Homo sapiens: one gene and its partners. Changing the gene in region 1 together with any one later gene gives a genetic interaction. Each region holds a gene or a part of one and is shown in the gene's direction. Other genes may lie near its edges. The genes, in order: MTOR, KRAS and CHEK1.

Region 1 (3,751 bases):
TTTCCTGAACAGTGAGCACAAGGAGATCCGCATGGAGGCTGCCCGCACCTGCTCCCGCCTGCTCACACCCTCCATCCACCTCATCAGTGGCCATGCTCATGTGGTTAGCCAGACCGCAGTGCAAGTGGTGGCAGATGTGCTTAGCAAACTGCTCGTAGTTGGGATAACAGATCCTGGTAAGGCTTGCCAGACAGAAGGAATCTAGGGGAGTTAAGGAGCTTAGGACAATTGGGAGTAGCCAGTTTCATTACATGGCCTCTCTAGAGTTCTTCGGCTCAAAAAGCTGATATTCAGCTATTTCTCTGCCAAGGCGTGTTAGGCATGGCTACTGTAGCCTTTGGTGTAAGATAATCTACCTTTAATTCTTTTGTCTTTTACTCTTGTGAGTAGAGAAAAGAATGACAGAGGTTAGATGAGAAAAAGCATCTGGAATCTTCCCACTACGCTGATGGCAGTGGAGGTAGAAGCTGGGAAGGGCTGGAGTGATGGGATCATGAGGAAATGTTCAAAGGCTCCATTGCTCTTGCAGACCCTGACATTCGCTACTGTGTCTTGGCGTCCCTGGACGAGCGCTTTGATGCACACCTGGCCCAGGCGGAGAACTTGCAGGCCTTGTTTGTGGCTCTGAATGACCAGGTGTTTGAGATCCGGGAGCTGGCCATCTGCACTGTGGGCCGACTCAGTAGCATGAACCCTGCCTTTGTCATGCCTTTCCTGCGCAAGATGCTCATCCAGGTAACCGAGGTGATGGCCAGACCCACAGGCAGGGAAGACAGGACTCTCGCTGTGAGAACTGCTTGAGGAAGCGGAGTTGAGGACAAGGATGGGGGAGAAAGATTGAGGTACCTGGTAAAAGCCGCATTTGTCTGCAAAGGTCCAAATGTTTCCCTGGCTTTATAATGGCAGTTCCAGTGCTCATCACCTCATGAGCCCTTTGTCAATATGACTCTAAGGTGGTTCAGAGTCCTCTCATGCAGCTCTTTCTTTTTCCTGGCAAGTCACCAGTGATCCCATTTCTTGGCCCTCTTTGCTTGCTGGGTTGATCTGCTGCAGATGGTGTCAGACTTCCCAGCGCCTCCCTATCCTTCAGCTCTCCTGCTTTTCTTGCTGGTGCCAGGTCAAGCACGGAGGCCGTTGTTCTTCACAAAAATAACCAGTGTGAGACCGTTTCCACTATTTGTTCTAATAGTCATTGCTCCAGTCTGTGATCCTGGCTTTCGTTCTTAAATAATATGAGAATGCCAAGCTCAGCTGCTTGGTCTGTAGCGTAAGGTAGAATTGCTCTGGAGACATGGCTCCTCAGTTTTTGTCTTCACCTACTGAGTAAGATCTGTGGCCTCCTGGTGAGCAATACATGGAGTCCTGCCAATACACCAGTCCTGCCTGGTGAAGTTATTTCCACCTGCCTCTTGTGGGTCTCTATGTTGCTCACCCAGTCATTTCCTGTCCCCATTGCTCACTGTTTGCTTCCTGATCCTCCTTCATGGTTTGTTTTGAAGTAAACACTTTTTATAACATATAAGGAACTTAAACATAGAAAATCATTAATATATGTAACTCACTCTAGAGAAATGTTTGTTCACAATTTGTTATAAAGTGGCTGTAAATTATATCATCAGTCAACAAATTAGGAAGTTGTACTTATGTTGGCACTTCTATTTTTAGCGTAATGATTTATTTAACTGCCGGCCTGCGTTAGAAGTGCCTGCCATTTTAAGTCTTAAAAACATTCCTCAGTTATAGGAAGGAATAGAAATCATTGTTGAAGGCCGGGCGTGGTGGCTCATGCCTGTAATCCCAGCACTTTGGGAGGCCGAGGTGGCCAGATCACCTGGGGTCAGGAGTTCAAGACCAGCCTGGCCAACATGGTGAAACCCCATCTCTACTAAAAATAAAAAAAAAATAGCCAGGCATGTTGGCAGGCGTCTGTAATACCAGCTACTCTGGAGGCTGGTGCAGGGAGAATTGCTTGAACCCAGGAGGTGAAGGTTGCAGTGAGCCGAGAGCGCGCCACTGCACTCCAGCCTGGCGACAGAGCGAGACTCTGTCTCAAAAAAAAAAAAAAAAACGTGAAATCACTGTTGAGCCTGCCAGCTCAAATCATGCTAAATTAATTTGGCGTAGAAATATCTCCTAAACGGCTGAGTGCAGTGTCTCATGTCTGTTATCCCAGCACATTGGGAGGCCAAGGCAGGCGGATCACAGGAGCCCAAGAGTTTGACAAGACCAGCCTGGGGAACATGACAAACCACGTCTCTACAAAATATACGAAAGTTAGCTGGGTGTAGTGGTGCATACCTGTAGTCCTAGCTACTCAGGAGGCTGAGGTGGGAGGATCACTTGAGCCTGGTAAGTTGTGGATGCAGTGAGCCGTGATTGTGCCACTGCACTCCAGCCTGGGTGACAGAGTGAGACCCTATCTCAAAAAAAAAAAAAAAAAGGAAAAAATAAGAAATACCTCCTAATGAGAATATCAATATGTTCATTCTGTCAGCAGACTTTTTGACCACATGCTATGTTCCAGGTACTGCTGGGCACTGGGAATATAGCAGTCAACAAGCCAGGCGTGGCTGCAATCTTCTTTCTTTTTTTTTTTTGAGACACAGTCTCGCTCTGTCGCCAGGCTGGAGTGCAGTAGTGTGATCTTGGCTCACTGCAACCTCCACCTCCCAGGTTCAAGCGATTCTCCTGCCTTGGCCTCCTGAGTAGCTGGGACTACAGGCGCCCGCCACCACGCCCAGCTAATTTTTGTATTTTTAGTAGAGATGGAGTTTCTCCATGTTGGCCAGGCTGGTCTCAATCTCTTGACCTCATGGTCTGCCCGCTTCGGCCTCCCAAAGTGCTGGGATTACAGGTGTGAGCCACCTCGCCCGGCTGGCTCTAATCTTCTTAAAGCTGATATTAAGCTATCAGGCCATTTCATTTTTTCAATATTGCAGAGTGTGAAGCTCCTTTGAATGAATTTATGTACTGAATTTAGCCCTTGAAATGTTAAAATTACTCTTTTTTGTTTTTAAACTTTGATATAGATTTTTCCAAATTGAGGTGTACATTTTCATGCCTTGGTAAAGGCTTTGGTGTTTTGTTTTGTTTTGAGACAGAATCTCACTCTGTCACCAAGGTTAGAGTGCAATGGTGGGATCTCGTCTCACTGCAACCTCTGCCTCTTGGGCTCGAGCAGTCCACCTGCCTCAGCCTCCTAAAGTGCTGGGATTACAGGCATGAGCCACCGTGCCTGGCCGACTTTGGCCTTTCTTGCGGTCTTGGTCATCAGGGTGGGCATTGGTTATTGTTATTAGGATGCAGTGAGGCTCTCGGGCTCTAAGTGAACCTGGGGTTCTTTGGATTGGCCCCGCACTGCTGCAGATAGTTGGGCTCTGCTCCGTGAGGCACATTTCCTTGCAGTCAGCCATGTCTTCTTGGTGCTGCAGGTCTATTCTCAGTATCCCCTTCATTTCTTTTCCCTGTGGTCTGCTATGACTGGGGAAAACAGGCTGCCAGGGGAATCCAGAAAAATCGGGTTATTAAGTCAGTAACCTAAGACAAAATGTAATGTTAAATTGTAGACTCCTCTGGGTAGCTGAGTTAACCTGAGCTCTGTGACATCTGCTTTTGTCACTGCTCATCGATTTCCTTCTGGCAGCTTTATCCAGAAATCTGTCTATATTATGCTGTCTATGTCACCATGAGCAAGATATGCTGATTTGCTGGTGTCCTAAGGATGTCAGCTAGAACCAATGTGTTATCTCCA
Region 2 (3,751 bases), on another chromosome or scaffold:
TGCTCCAGACTGCATCGGTAGTGGTGGTGCTGGGATTGAAACCTAGGCCTGTTTGACTCCACAGCCTTCTGTACTCTTGACTATTCTACAAAAGCAAGACTTTAAACTTTTTAGATACATCATTAAAAAAGAAAACCATAAAAAAGAATATGAAAAGATGATTTGAGATGGTGTCACTTTAACAGTCTTAAAAGCAATCGTGTGTATAGCATAGAATTGCTTGGATTGGATAAACAGTGGCATTATATATTTTAAAAAATAAAAGTTTTGAAAGATTGAAGAATTTGGGCATTACAGTTCTCTTAAATCTGACAAAGCTGCATAAAACTATTAAAATAATCATTATTATACTATTTTATATTCTATTTCTTTGAGGGTTTAGTTTTCCAAAAACTACATATTAAGCAAATGAATCACTCAGTGGCTATGTCATATAATAACGAGTTAGCCTAGTTATAAGAAGTTTAACATTTTATTTAAGAACATTGTTACAGCATGTTTACTGTATAGTCTAGTAATAGAGGAAAAGACATTTGGGTGGGTGGTAGTGGTAGTATTTTTATAGAGGAGTTACCAAATTTCAGCTCTATTATCCAAGTTTACCCAGCTAATGGTGTTCGGAACCGGGAATTTGAGCCAATTCTGACTCTGTTGTCTGCTCTGCTCCTTCTTTTGTGCTGTGTCTTTGAAAGTCACCTAAAATTGTGAGGGAATGTAATTTCACCCCAAATTTAGAGTTTATGCACTTGTTATATTGAAAATGATTAACATGTAGAAGGGCTTTTAATGGAATAAGTGGTGTAGTAACTTCAGTGTTGCCTACCTAGAAATCAAAATCTTTCTAGTTGTCCACTTTGTTTTTTGAAAAAGTAATATGAAAATTATGTTAATGCTTTAATTCAGGTTTTTGTAAAATATTTTTTATCTTTACACATTTAACATACGTTTCTAAAATTATAGTCTGTTATATAGCACTTTGGGTCTAGAATTTTTCAGTAGTTTCTGTTTTACTATTATGATCTACCTGCATATTAACCTATTAGGTTATAGTTTTACTATACTTCTAGGTATTTGATCTTTTGAGAGAGATACAAGGTTTCTGTTTAAAAAGGTAAAGAAACAAAATAACTAGTAGAAGAAGGAAGGAAAATTTGGTGTAGTGGAAACTAGGAATTACATTGTTTTCTTTCAGCCAAATTTTATGACAAAAGTTGTGGACAGGTTTTGAAAGATATTTGTGTTACTAATGACTGTGCTATAACTTTTTTTTCTTTCCCAGAGAACAAATTAAAAGAGTTAAGGACTCTGAAGATGTACCTATGGTCCTAGTAGGAAATAAATGTGATTTGCCTTCTAGAACAGTAGACACAAAACAGGCTCAGGACTTAGCAAGAAGTTATGGAATTCCTTTTATTGAAACATCAGCAAAGACAAGACAGGTAAGTAACACTGAAATAAATACAGATCTGTTTTCTGCAAAATCATAACTGTTATGTCATTTAATATATCAGTTTTTCTCTCAATTATGCTATACTAGGAAATAAAACAATATTTAGTAAATGTTTTTGTCTCTTGAGAGGGCATTGCTTCTTAATCCAGTGTCCATGGTACTGCTTTTGGCTTTGGTTTCTTTCTACATTGAAAATTTCTCTTCAATTCTGAGCACATGTTAACATTTAGAATTCAAGAGGTGGGGATTTTTTTTTCCCATGGTTACATATATATATATATATATATATATATATATATATATATATATATATATAAAGAACAGGGCAACAAATTTTTGCGTTTTCTATTTCGGTAGTACTTTTAAACCATTATGTCATGTTTCTAGGTTAAACGTTGTTGTATTTGAAGAATTTTACTTTGGCAGAATTTTTTTGAGGATGTGTTTATTTCTGGAGAAAGGTCTCATTAAAGAAAGACAATACCCAGAAAGCCAACAGAAATTCTGTTACTCATTTAATGCATTTTTCTGACAAAAATTATTGCCAGAGAGAACCTGAATTTTGTTTCAAAAATCATCTTTGTTTTAAAAATGACTTTTTCTTCAGGTAAAATAAAATAATTTCAGTTGCTATTATTTAACCTGTTTGTATGAAGAGTTTAACATATAGGAAATGAATACATAAAGATAGGAAGGAATTAATTGTTATATGTAGTCATATGTCTCTTAATGACAGGGATACTTTCTAAGAAATACATTGTTAGGTGATTTTGTCATTGTGCAAACATCATAGAATATACTTACACAAACCTTGGTAGTATAACCTACTATACACCTGGGATATGTAGTATAGTCTCTTGCCCCAGGGATACAAACCTGTACAGTATGTAACTGTACTAATGACTATAAGGCAATTGTTAACACAATGGTAAGTTTTGTGTGTCTAAACCTACACTTGGGCTACCCTAAGTTTATATATTTTTTTAAATTTCTGTTCAATAATAAATTAACCTTACTTTACTGTAACTTTTTAAACTTTTTAATTTTTCCTAACATTTTGACTTTTGTAATACAGCTTAAAACACACATTATACAGCTATACAAATTTTTCTTTCCTTATATCTTTATTCTGTAAGCTTTTTTCCATATTTAAAATTTTTTGTTTGTTTTTACTTATTAAACTTTTTTGTTAAAAACTAAGACATGCATGCACATTAACCTAGGCCTACACAGGGTCAGGACCATCAATATCATTGTCTTCCACTTCCACATCTTGTCCCACTGGAAGATCTTCAGGGGCAGTAACACACGTGGAGCTGTCATCTCCTATAATAACATTGCCTTCTTTTGGAATACCTCCTGAAGGACCTATCCAAGGCTGTTTATAGTTAACTTTTTTTTTTTTTTTTTTTTTTTTTTAGTAAATAGGAGGAGTACACTATAAAATAACAATATAGGTGCTATACCATTATACAACTGACAGTGCAGTAGGTTTGTTTACACCAGCATCACCACAAACACGTGAGCAATGTGTCGTACTACAGTGTTAGGATGGCTATAACATCACTAAGCAATAGGAACTTTTAAACTCCATTATAATCTTATGGGACCACTATCACATATGCAATCTCCTGTGGACCAAAATGTCATTATGTGGTACATGACTGTACTAAGAAATTGATCCATCTATATTCCATCAATTTGTTTAGGGCTTTTTCTGGTTACATTTACCTGTGAGCCCAGAAAACCAGTTTTGTAGAAATTAACTTCTGTAATGCTAGGAGTTAAAAAAAATTGCTGAACAACTTTTACATTGTTAAACATTTAAAAACAAGCGTTCTAGAAGTTTATCAAATTTCATAAAGGTGCAAAAATGTAAATGTAAATCATTATCCAGCTAATATATATGTTGTATTTCCCTAGTAGGAGAGCATATGTACCTCTTCCTAGTTATACAAATTTGATATATAGTAAAGAAACAGTAAATTCTACTTCAAGTCATTTTGGGAGGATTAAAAACTGAATTTCTCTAGTTTGACCATTGTACAGATTTATCTGGCAATTTTACTAAAACCTGATTTATAGGTTAAACTTGGTGTATATCATATATCACTTTACTTTAGAGGAATTAAGATTTCACATAAATCCATTTCCAGGTTCCAAAGACCAGGAAGAGGCTTGGTTTTTGTTTTTCTTTTTACTGTCTTTACAGTCTCCTTGACTTTTCTTAGGAGAGAAGGTACTGAGAAAACATGATTCTAATATTTATTATTTTTTCTTCCAACATTTTCTTATGAAACA
Region 3 (3,751 bases), on another chromosome or scaffold:
GTGGGGTACACACCCTGTAATCTCAGCTACTGGGGAGGCTGAGGCATGAGAATTGCCCAGGAGGTGGAGGTTGCAGTGAGCAGACATCATGCCACTGCACTCCAACCTGGGAGACAGAGCAAGACTGTCTCAAAAAAAAAAAAAAAAAAAAAAAAGAGTGGGACCCAAAAAAGCTGATTGAAAGGTCTGTTTGTAGGGGGTGTAGATGGGGATTAATAATGTGGGTTTCAATCTACTGTGATCTGGCTGGGCTGTTACATTGGGAAATCCATGATACTGATTTTTAGATTTTTATCTTTTGCATAGGTAAGATTCCCTTGAGAAGGCTTGCATATTCTCTTACTCAAGGATGTAAGCCAGGCAGTCAGCTTTCTGGGAGTAGAGTAGGGAAAGAAGTTGTAACAGGCTCAACCTTCAGTGGATAAAACTTAAACTTAATCCCTCCGTTTTCAGTAAGGTGCCCAAGCTTTTAACTGTGCCTAATGGTCTCCAGTTCACATACTGTGCATTTACCCTCTTAAATCTCGTACCAGCTTTGGGGAGGGACAGTTCCTTGGTTACATAGAAAGGGAAGGGATACGGGGATCTATTTGTTTTTTATGTAGCCTTTAAACCTACCCCTTTTAGCCCCATTTTTACCTCCACCTTCAGTTACCTGGTGTCACCAGTTCAACTTGAGCTTTTTCAGAGTTCTGTGATGTTAATTCTGCTTTCCATTGCTAGCTTTGGGATTCATCTTCATTACCTTTCATCTAAAGGCTTTCTGCTTTCCAAAATGTGTCTCATACTCTGTTCTTATGGGTTCTTTTAAATATTGGTATCCTTTACTATTAAAATATTTTAGTGGGCTTTCAGAAGAGAATAGAGGCTATTTCTATGTATTCTGTCTTTAACTGGTATTCTGCTGGAGTCTGTATATCTTTTTTTTTTTTTTTTTCAGGCTAAAAAGACTCCATCAGACACACAGGAAATTTGCAGGTCTTCCTCTTCGTATTCTTTGTTTTCAGCACACAGTGAGGAAACAAGAGAAAATGGGATAAATGATATAAAAACTTGCTTTTATTTTTATACCAGGCCCTGTGGCTCGCTTCTGTAATCCCAGTGACTTGGGATGCTGAGGTAGGAGGATCACTTGAGCTCAGGAGTTCCAGGCTGCAGTGAGCTAAGACTGCCCAATTGCACTCCAGCCTGGGTGACAGAGCAACACACCCTGTCTCCAAAAACAACAAACTGTAAAAAGATTACATGAAGCCTAATCTGTGATGTCATGATTCAAAACTATACACATAAGCATTTTAAGAGTTTTTTCCTTGATTTTTGTTCCTGACTTTGCTTCTTTAAAAGAAATGTGTGTTTTTGTTGTTGGTTGTTTGTTTTTGAGACGGAGTCTTGCTCTGTTGCCCAGGCTGGAGTGCAGTGGCACAATCTCTGCTCACTGCAGCCTCTGCCTCCTGGGTAGCTGGGATTACAGGCACTCGCCATCGTGCCCGGCTAATTTTTGTATTTTTAGTAGAGACGGGGGTTTCACCATGTTGGCCAGGCTGGTCTTGAACTGCTGACCTCAGGTGATCCATACGCCTCAGCTTCCCAAAGTGTTGGGATTACACGTGTGAGCCACCAGGCCCCGGCCTTGAGTAACATTTTATACTTGTTTCACTTTACTATTATCATAATAGCCAGTTATGCTTAGTGTTTGTATGTGGCCCAGTCTTAAGGACTAAGAAAATATATATGTATATATATAAAATATATACATATAAAAAAATATGTTTTTTTCCTACGGAATCATGCTGTTGCCCAGGCTGGAGTGCAGTAGTGCTCACTAACCTCTAACTCCTGGACTCAAACGATTGTTCTGCTTAGGCCTCCCAAGTAGCTAGGGCTACAGGGACACACCACCAAGCCCGACTAATTCCTAAATTTTTTTATTTGTAGAGATGGGGTCTCCCTATGTTCCCCAGGCTGGTCCTGAACTCCTGGCCTCAAGCCATTCTCCTGCCTCGCCTTCCCAAAGTGCTGGAATTACAGGCAGGAGCCACTGCGCCCGGCCAGTGCTGGAGAATGTAATGGAGATGATCCTGCCTATCCCTGAGTTCCAGTCTAGTTTACTGTCAGAGAATACTTATTTCCATTTTTCCTATTTTGTTCTTGAGTCTCTTTCCTCAGAATTTACTTTTCCACTTAAATGACGTACGCAGCTTTTAAATTTGCGTTGTAAGATTTATTTTGGCTCTCCCCGCCTGTTCTTTGCACATTAAAAATGAAAAAGTTTGTAGAACTAAGCTAAGCAGATGGTCTTCCTGCAAAAAGACCGGGCTGAAGTAAAGCATTGTTTTGGAGCTGGTTCACAGAAAAAAGGCAAAACTGGTTATCCTGACTTCAAGCTCCAACATAAACTGCTCGCTTTCTCCGGGAAACTTGCCCCGCCACACACACTTGACTGCGTGGCCAGTTCTTTCGAAGCCTCTCGCTCCCAACACGGAGTTCCTCCCATTTCTTCACAGTCGGCTCTCAGCAGCTGCTGCTGGTTTCTCGGCTCCAGCACCACGAGTACCGCACTCTGAGGTTTACAAAGCACTCTGCTTCACCGACTGTGATCCTCACAGTCCTGTCCGGTGGCCTCACGCAGGTGGCGGTGCAGCCTTTCAGGCCCAGAGCGGCCAGGAGCGAAGCCCGCAGCCCCGCCTGGAAGCGCAGCGCGGTCGGTCGCGCGCCCCTGAGGCTTGGAGGCCTGGGCTTCCCCCAGCAGCGCTCGAGCACCGCCCAGTCGAGCCTCACACCGGATGCCACTTCATATTTGGGCCCAGAGCTCAATTCGCGCCGATGCGGTCCGCCGTCCTTAAATCTCTTCAGCCAGGATCTCTCCCCGACTGCAAAGCAGCCCTGGGCGGGAGCGGCAACATCTCCACGTCACCCTTTTGGAGCCGCCGACATTCAGAGGGGCAGGACACGGGAACGCGCGCTGTCTTGCTTTACGGCGCGGGTGCGCGAGTTTGCGGCAGCGTGACGCCCTCAAGTTTTGGCGGGAAAAGCGCTGCATTTGGATTCCTGCAGTGGTGGGCAAAGGACAGTCCGGTGAGGAAGGGCGGCCGGTAGAGTAGGGAAGGTTTCTAAAGAAGGAGTTCGGGGTCTAGATTAGTGAGGGAGGGCATGGTGGGAGAAAGTTAGCATTGACTAGCGCAGGGGATTGGAGAGACTCCTGCGGAGGGGCGGTTTCGGAGGGTGGAGGAATGGTACCAGGAGGTTCCCGTTGTGGGGGCGGGGGCAGGAGGGACTAACCCGCTGCTAGCTAAGAACCCCAAGGAAGAGTCCCAGCCCTTCCTTTCGCCTCTGGGGGCAGTTTGGCCCCGCCCCGGCCTTTGGGACGGGTGGGGCTGTGGATGGGGATGGGAATTGGAATTGAGCAATTGGGAGGAGGCGCTGCCGCAGGCGTTTTCTGCCCCATACCGCTCCCTATATCCTCTTCCTCTCTTCCCCAGACCCCCACCTCTCCCTCCTCCTTCCCCAGTCGTTCGCCGGAAAGCATTTGTCTCCCACCTCTTCATAACAACAATTAATTTCCTCTGGGGCCTGAGGAGGGCAGAATTTCAACCTTCGGTGTGCTTGGGAGTGGCGATTGTGATTTACACGACAAAATGGTCAGGTTTAGAATAGTTGTTCGTGGTTGAAAGACTTGGATAAATGTGGATGAGATAGAAGGGGAAGGCAAGAGCTGTTAATTTTCGTGGGCAATCCTGGGGAGAGGCGGGGC

The links.
Region 2: changes in MTOR (region 1) and KRAS together harm fitness more than expected from each alone (negative genetic interaction), as found in Homo sapiens cells (3 studies listed by BioGRID, with this or other methods).
Region 3: changes in MTOR (region 1) and CHEK1 are lethal when combined (synthetic lethality), as found in Homo sapiens cells (2 studies listed by BioGRID, with this or other methods).

Annotation. Positions count from the first base shown.
Region 1 is NC_000001.11:11,234,827-11,238,577, reverse strand, and holds part of MTOR (serine/threonine-protein kinase mTOR), read left to right. Parts: coding exon 1-176; intron 177-529; coding exon 530-735; intron 736-818; exon of another isoform or gene 819-842; intron 843-3,751. UniProt on the Homo sapiens protein: Serine/threonine protein kinase which is a central regulator of cellular metabolism, growth and survival in response to hormones, growth factors, nutrients, energy and stress signals.
Region 2 is NC_000012.12:25,223,302-25,227,052, reverse strand, and holds part of KRAS (GTPase KRas), read left to right. Parts: intron 1-1,279; coding exon 1,280-1,439; intron 1,440-3,751. UniProt on the Homo sapiens protein: Ras proteins bind GDP/GTP and possess intrinsic GTPase activity. Plays an important role in the regulation of cell proliferation.
Region 3 is NC_000011.10:125,622,938-125,626,688, forward strand, and holds the start of CHEK1 (serine/threonine-protein kinase Chk1), read left to right. Parts: upstream 1-2,225; 5' UTR 2,226-2,823; coding exon of another isoform or gene 2,824-3,075; exon of another isoform or gene 3,076-3,635; coding exon of another isoform or gene 3,636-3,638; exon of another isoform or gene 3,639-3,705; intron 3,706-3,751. UniProt on the Homo sapiens protein: Serine/threonine-protein kinase which is required for checkpoint-mediated cell cycle arrest and activation of DNA repair in response to the presence of DNA damage or unreplicated DNA.